2 linked regions of the Homo sapiens genome follow. The protein of the gene in region 1 purifies or fractionates together with the protein of each later gene. This does not show direct contact. Each region holds a gene or a part of one and is shown on either strand. Other genes may lie near its edges.

Region 1 (3,657 bases):
AGGTGGCCCAGAGCAGGTGCAGCTGGGAAGCTAGAGGAACCTGTGGTTGCTGGGAACTCCCCTGCCCCCAATCTGGTGTCAACTCACAGATGTGGGCTCCCCGCCATCCCCCGACTTCCCCTTCCCAAGGTATATGTGACACCCACCTGGCTGATGTCAGTGAGGCTGCCATGGCCTAGGCACCCATTGCTGCCGCTGCCGAATGTCATGATGATGCCTCTGTCTGGGGAGAAGGGCAGTGAGGAAGGAGAAGGGAAAGAAGTTAAACAGTCTTTCCAGATAGCCCGGTCCTCCAGTGGGTTGCAGCAGCAAAATAAAGTTGGGGACCAGGGCTGGAAGGATGGGATAGGAAGAGAGAAAAGGATATGAGTCCCTTCAAACATATGTGACTTTGGACAAGTGACACCCTCTCTGAGCCTTAGCGTCCCCACTTGTCAAATGAGGATAATATAATAACTGCCTTGCCAGGCCTGTCCGTAGGGTAAAGGAGGTTGTATAAGGAAATCTCCTCAATAGTTACTAGACAGAAGCAATAACTCGATAACTAGTAGACAGAAGCATTCATTAAGTGCGTGTTTTGCAAGAGAAGAGAGAAGGTGCTCTGTGGGGCCTCAGAGCAGGTCCCACAAGGTAGGCCCGACAACTCACCAGTCAGGCAGGCAGTGAAGAAGTCCCCACAGGCCACGTGCTTGATGGTCACACCCGACTGGCCCTCCAGGAAACGCGAGATGAACTGGGGCTGTGGCTGCTCCACTGCCCCAGGAAGGAGACTGCCTCCGCCTGCACCTAGGGGTGGGGCCTGCAGGGGCAGGGGGATGGGCAGCGCCTGAGCACCCCAACCCTGCTGTGGACCTCCACCTCCACCCATCCAGGCCACCCCCTGGCCTGCTCACCTCCCACAGGATGAGACGCCCAGAGCGCGTGACGCCGGCTTTCTGCGTGCGCCCAGCTGCCACCTGGACCACCTCTGTGTTGAGCATTGGCAGCCGCAGGGGGGTGCCCAGCCCACCACCCCAGGCATACACTGACGACAGTGGTGGTGGGATGGCTGGCCTCACAGGTCCCCGGGGGATACCTGCAGGTACAGTGCATGGGGACTATTAAACTGATGGGAATGGTGTGGCATCCATGGGGACTGGCGGCCTCTTCCCACTTACCTCTGCAGCGGACACTGGTGGTCCTGCTCCCTGTGTTGCTGGGGGCCACGGACTTCTCTGCCCTGCAGGACAGATGGGGGCCTAAGGACAAAGACCCTCCTGACATTCCTACATGCAGGAAGGGAGGACTTGCCCCAGGTTTCCCTCTGCCTCAGACCTCCTGTGCTCCCACTGGGTGCCCACACCCTGCCGCCCAGGACCGCTCGCTGTCCCTGCACAGGCCTCCGCATGCGGACACTGCCCACGTCGGTGTGGAGGTTGAGGAGGGCACGGATGCAGAGGGGCTGTGCCATGATGTGGCTGAGTGGTGGCCGCTGGGCAGGCTCCAGGCTGAGTAGACTCAGGACCAGCTGGCGAAGCTCAGGGCTGTACCGGTCAGAGATAGGTGCAAAGGTGCCACTCATGATCTTCAGCACCAGTGCTGGCAAGTTCTGTGAAGGCACCAGGTTGAGAATTTGGGGAAGTGAGGGCAGCACCCCCCAGCTCCAGCCCCTGGTCTCCTGGGATAATAACAGCTTTGCCTGGAGGCATCATGCTACCTGACTTCAAACTATACTACAAGGCTACAGTAACCAAAACAGCATGGTACTGGTACCAAAACAGAGATATAGACCAATGGAACAGAACAGAGCCCTCAGAAATAATGCCACACATCTACAACTATCTGATCTTTGACAAACCTGAGAAAAACAAGAAATGGGGAAAGGATTCCCTATTTAATAAATGGTGCTGGGAAAACTGGCTAGCCATATGTAGAAAGCTGAAACTGGATCCCTTCCTTACACCTTATACAAAAATTAATTCAAGATGGACTAAAGACTTACATGTTAGACCTAAAACCATCAAACCCCTAGAAGAATACCTAGGCAATACCATTCAGGACATAGGCATGGGCAAGGACTTCATGTCTAAAACACCAAAAGCAATGGCAACAAAAGCCAAAATTGACAAATGGGATCTAATTAAACTAAAGAGCTTCTGCACAGCAAAAGAAACTACCATCAGAGTGAACAGGCAACCTACAGAATGGGAGAAGATTTTTGCAATCTACTCATCTGACAAAGGGCTAATATCCAGAATCTACAAAGAACTCAAACAAATTTACAAGAAAAAAACAACCCCATCAACAAGTGGGCGAAGGATATGAACAGACACTTCTCAAAAGAAGACATTTATGCAGCCAAAAGACACATGAAAAAATGCTCATCATCACTGGCCATCAAGAAATGCAAATCAAAACCACAATGAGATACCATCTCACACCAGTTAGAATGGTGATCTTTAAAAAGTCAGGAAACAACAAGTGCTGGAGAGGATGTGGAGAAATAGGAACACTTTTACACTGTTGGTGGGACTGTAAACTAGTTCAACCATTGTGGAAGTCAGTGTGGCGATTCCTCAGGGATCTAGAACTAGAAATACCATTTGACCCAGCCATCCCATTACTGGGTGTATACCCAAAGGATTATAAATCATGCTGCTATAAAGACACATGCACACGTATGTTTATTGTGGCACTATTCACAATAGCAAAGACTTGGAACCAACCTAAATGTCCAACAATGATAGATGGATTAAGAAAACGTGGCACATACACACCATGGAAAACTATGCAGCCGTAAAAAATGATGAGTTCATGTCCTTTGTAGGACATGGATGGAGCTGGAAACCATCATTCTCAGCAAACTATCGCAAGGACAAAAAACCAAACACCGCATGTTCTCACTCATAGGTGGGAATTGAACAATGAGAACACATGGACACAGGAAGGGGAACATCACACACCGGGGCCTGTTGTGGGGTGGGGGGAGGGGGAAGGGATAGCATTAGGAGATATACCTAATGTTAAATGATGAGTTAATGGGTGCAGCACACCAACATCGCACATGTATACATACGTATCAAACCTGCACGTTGTGTACATGTGCCCTAAAACTTAAAGTATAATAAAAAAAATAAATAAATAAACAATAACAGCTTTGCCCTCAGGAGACTTCAGTCTGATGAGGAGACTCCCAGACTGACAGGGGAGTCCAACCTGGCTTTCAGTGATCCCTAGTCTGATAGGGGAGCTGCAGCTATATCCTCAGAAACCCCAGCATGCTGGGAAAACTCAAGTCTTGCTCTTGGGAGGGTCTTCTGGGAAAGCCACAGCCCTGCCCTCAGGAGCCCTCCGTCTAATGGGAGGCAAGACCTACTCTCAGAAATCCATAGTCTGAGGGACACCCATAGCCCTCCCCTGGGGTAATCTGATAAGGGAGAGACATGACTCAGCTAGAGGAGAAACCTGAGGTGGCTTGAGCCAAGGGCTGCTGGGCGAGGCAGTAGATTTCTCAGTTGTCCCCTGGAGGGTGCATACACTCACCGCAGCCTCGAAAGCCCTCTTGAGGCTGGCCAGCTCGTAGAGGACACAGCCCAGGGCCCAGATGTCACTCTTCTGGTTGTAGGGCTTGCCCTCACACAGCTCAGGGGAGATATAGCATGGGGTACCCACCACCTG
Region 2 (3,657 bases), on another chromosome or scaffold:
CCTTCAACAACTCCCTATAGCATATCAGACTGAATACATGTTACTCAAAACAAACCATAATGACGCCAACCCATTCCTTCTGTGCTAAGAGGCGAGAAAAGCTCAAGTCAAATGGGGCTGGTTCTAAGCTATCTGAGCTCCTTGGAACTCATGCCTAGCAACACTAAGGTCAGTACTTGGCAAATATTTCTTTAATTGAAATGACAAAAAAGTGAGGGAAGATGAGAAAGAAGAGGCAAAGATAATTTAAAACCCAAACCAGTAATGTAAGAATATTTGTAAGCTGGTATTGGGTGCAAACTTACAACCCTGCCTCGTCTTACTGTCCAGAGTCTCAAGTATACAATATGAGAACTGGGGCTAAATGGTGGTCACAGAACTATTTTGAGTGACTTTCTCCAAGTGGGCTTCAGGAAGGTGGCTCTAGTAACCTAAAAGAAAAATTTGCAATATCCAATATCTAGTTTCTGGGCACTATGTTTCTTTCAGGGTGTACTATTCCTTTCCAAAGCCACCTCACTTGCTAATTGTGTTTACTGAACTTGCAGGTGAGATAAAACACTTCCTGATAAAGGAACGAAGTTAAGCTCCAATGATCTGTACAAAAGTACTTCAAGAACCAAAGAAAATCACTTCTTGGGAAATGTGGAGAAAAGGTAGGGCTTAATGAAGCATGTATAATAGAAAGACTGGTAGGCATCAGGCAGTGGGCGCCATTTCAAGCTATAGTCGACACGGTAAATTCACATGTAGTGTTAATTTAGGCACTCCATGATGTGACTATCCTATCAGCCAATAAGCACTCAGAATTTGATAGGCTTAAGCTAATAGTAGCAGGGTGTGAAAACCCAAGAAATCTGGGTTTTAGCCCCAGCTCCCCTTAGTAGCTATGGGATTTTAGACAAGTCCTCTCCATGCTTCAGCAAGATGAGGAAACATCAGCCCTGCCTTCATCATCAGAACTGTGATACTAAAATGAGACCATGTGTTAAGAACTGGACCTCTTAAGTCACACAAGTCATGAAATGAGACATTGGTGTTTGATGTATAGTAAACATCTGATAAATATTAGCTACTCTTATTATGTTGGTATTATAGCACAGCAAGGACTGAAGCTCTAAAGATTGTGTTCTATATATTACAAAGCTCAGTGGGCTGTGAAAAATCATGTAAAGCCTGAAGCTCTCAGTTGGTCATGTTGGGGCAGGAATGGCATATTTGCAGGTTGGGAAATGTCTTCTAACAGTCGAGTGAAAGAAGAAAATACTCAGTGAAAGCTGTTAAATGTAGATAATTTCACAGGAGGAATGAGAAGACTAAGAACTAAAGACTCTAACCTACATGCCCAGCTGAATCGCTTTCTTCTCAAAAGGATGTAGCTGCAATTCTCCCTGAAATGACATCACGTGAACTTAAGTGGGTGACTGAATCATAAGCCTAGTGTGAGCATGAGGTGTGGCAGTGGGGAAATAGGTCATGCACATGAAATTTCATATTTAAAAGGTATTCAAACTTCCTAGGGAGAAAAAGGCAATCTTTTCCACAGACAGTGAAGTATGTCCTTTGGCATCGGCAAAATGATTAATCAATATCAATCAATATCCTATTATTTACATGTCCTTCTTCCTATCTCCTCCACTGAGCGAGTGCACACAAGTTGAGCAAATCTAACCACTCAGAGTGCCTCCACCCCTCATTTTCATAAAAAGTCTTAGTACTTTTCCATGGGGCCCTTACTGTATTCCCTTTTCAATCCAGAAATAATAAGCTTTGTTTTTGGACTTTAAGACAGTTCACTATTTACCACAAAACAACCCAGCCCCACACATGCAAATTCTGGCATCTTGTTTGTTGAGCCACCGTATAGGCAAGAGATCAAAAGCTGTTTAAAAACATCTGCTTTGGTTTTTCAGAAACCTGACAAACTTATTGTATAATTTATTGGGAAGAACTTTATGACTTCGAATGAAAAGGAACTTCTTAAGACTCAAAAAGACCAACCTCTTAATTTAAAAAAAAAAAACACAATGAATTTGATTACATAAAAACCAAGGATTTCTGTTAAACGAAAGTCACCATAGACAAAAATAATAGACGATGGGTTGGGGGAGATTCTTCAATGTCTAAAGCTAATTTGTTTTCTTATTGATTTGTGTTAGTTCCTTGTACATTCCAGAATGTAATATACAATGTGAATTAAAAATACCTATAGACTAGAGTTTACAACAAAATGTATAAATATATGGATATATGTGAAAAAGGCGGTCTATGGAAACAAGAGAATTGTGAATAGAAAATACAGATAAAAAGGAATATATAATAAAACACAGGAATTTTGCAGCCTGAATAAAAAACTCCTATGCAACTGAGGCCCTTAAAAATCCATTACTTGGGCTGGGTGTGGTGGTTCACACTTGTAATCCCAACACTTTGGGAGACCAAAGTAGGTGGATCACTGAGTCCACGAGTTCGAAAACAGCCTGGGCAACACAGTGGCCTCATCTCTACAAAAAAAAAAAACAAAAATTAGCCAAGCCTGGTAGTATGCACCTGTAGTCCCAGCTACTAGTAAGGCTGAGGCAAGAAAACTGCTTGAGCCTGGGAAGTCGAGGCTGCAGTGAACCGTGATCACGCCACTGCCCTCAGCTTGGGCAACAGAGTGAGACTGTCTCAAGAAAAAGGGGGAAAAAAAAAAACATAGTTTCCTCAACTACTTGCTTATTTTTCCTTTAGAGGATAATGTAAGATTTCCCATTTAGAGAAACTAAGAAGTCTTCCTTCAGAAAATCTGTTGGTATTAAGTGTTCACTATTTTTAGCCTTCTGTATTCCTCCAGTTTTTCCAGTAGGAGGTCATTTTTCACTGGGCTTTAATTACCATTCTAATTCACCAGTTTCCAATTACTATCAGAACTTGCTCAAAAGAATAAGTCACCTTGACAATTCCTTCCCCTGGCAGAGTGGGGATCTACTGAAATGTCACTCTTCCATGAAGAACAACAAAATTGTATTTATCTGTATTCAGTTCATTAGGTCTAGAACATTCTGTATACTTAACTACTGACTAGTCAAGTTCTAAATAAAGCAGATTCTTTCTGATTATCTTTCACAGTAAATATAAGAATATAGTTTTGCAGTTCCTTTACTTAGCTGACTAGTTATAACACTATTTCAGAAATATTTTTATGTTTAATGTATATATGTAAATAACCGCAGTGCAGAGGAGAGTCCCAAGGAACATCCTTGGCTAGTGAGCCTAAGAGATCACACAGTATTTTCTCCAGTTTTGAGTGGATTTAGCCAATATATTTTGTGGGGTTTTTTTCCGTGCCCTTAACATCTTATTTTCTAGCTAACAATATTCTGATTCACAGCAAGTGTTCCAAAGAATAAACATAGGTATAAGTGGTTAAAGCCCTAGTCAGATTTGGAGGGGGGTAGACCAGCTAGTACCACCTTTAAGAACTAGCCTAAAGAATGACAAGATGAAGGCCTAAACAAATAAATTCCTAATATGTGCATGTAAGTTATAAATTGCAGTGTCAAGAACACATCTGCTCTGAAGGTAAAATGACCCCAAATAGATCTGACTTACTTAGGACCCCTCTTTCCACTGTGCTAAATGGGGAACACATACAGCAAAAGCACATTTTTATTT

The links.
Region 2: the proteins of NEK8 (region 1) and MTR purify together in Homo sapiens (affinity purification with mass spectrometry; one large-scale study listed by BioGRID and IntAct). This does not show direct contact.

Annotation. Positions count from the first base shown.
Region 1 is NC_000017.11:28,735,237-28,738,893, reverse strand, and holds part of NEK8 (serine/threonine-protein kinase Nek8), read right to left. Parts: intron 3,655-3,657; coding exon 3,523-3,654; intron 1,589-3,522; coding exon 1,380-1,588; intron 1,220-1,379; coding exon 1,158-1,219; intron 1,076-1,157; coding exon 894-1,075; intron 800-893; coding exon 649-799; intron 224-648; coding exon 147-223; intron 1-146. UniProt on the Homo sapiens protein: Required for renal tubular integrity. May regulate local cytoskeletal structure in kidney tubule epithelial cells. May regulate ciliary biogenesis through targeting of proteins to the cilia.
Region 2 is NC_000001.11:236,798,158-236,801,814, reverse strand, and holds part of MTR (methionine synthase), read right to left. Parts: intron 1-3,657. UniProt on the Homo sapiens protein: Catalyzes the transfer of a methyl group from methylcob(III)alamin (MeCbl) to homocysteine, yielding enzyme-bound cob(I)alamin and methionine in the cytosol. MeCbl is an active form of cobalamin (vitamin B12) used as a cofactor for methionine biosynthesis.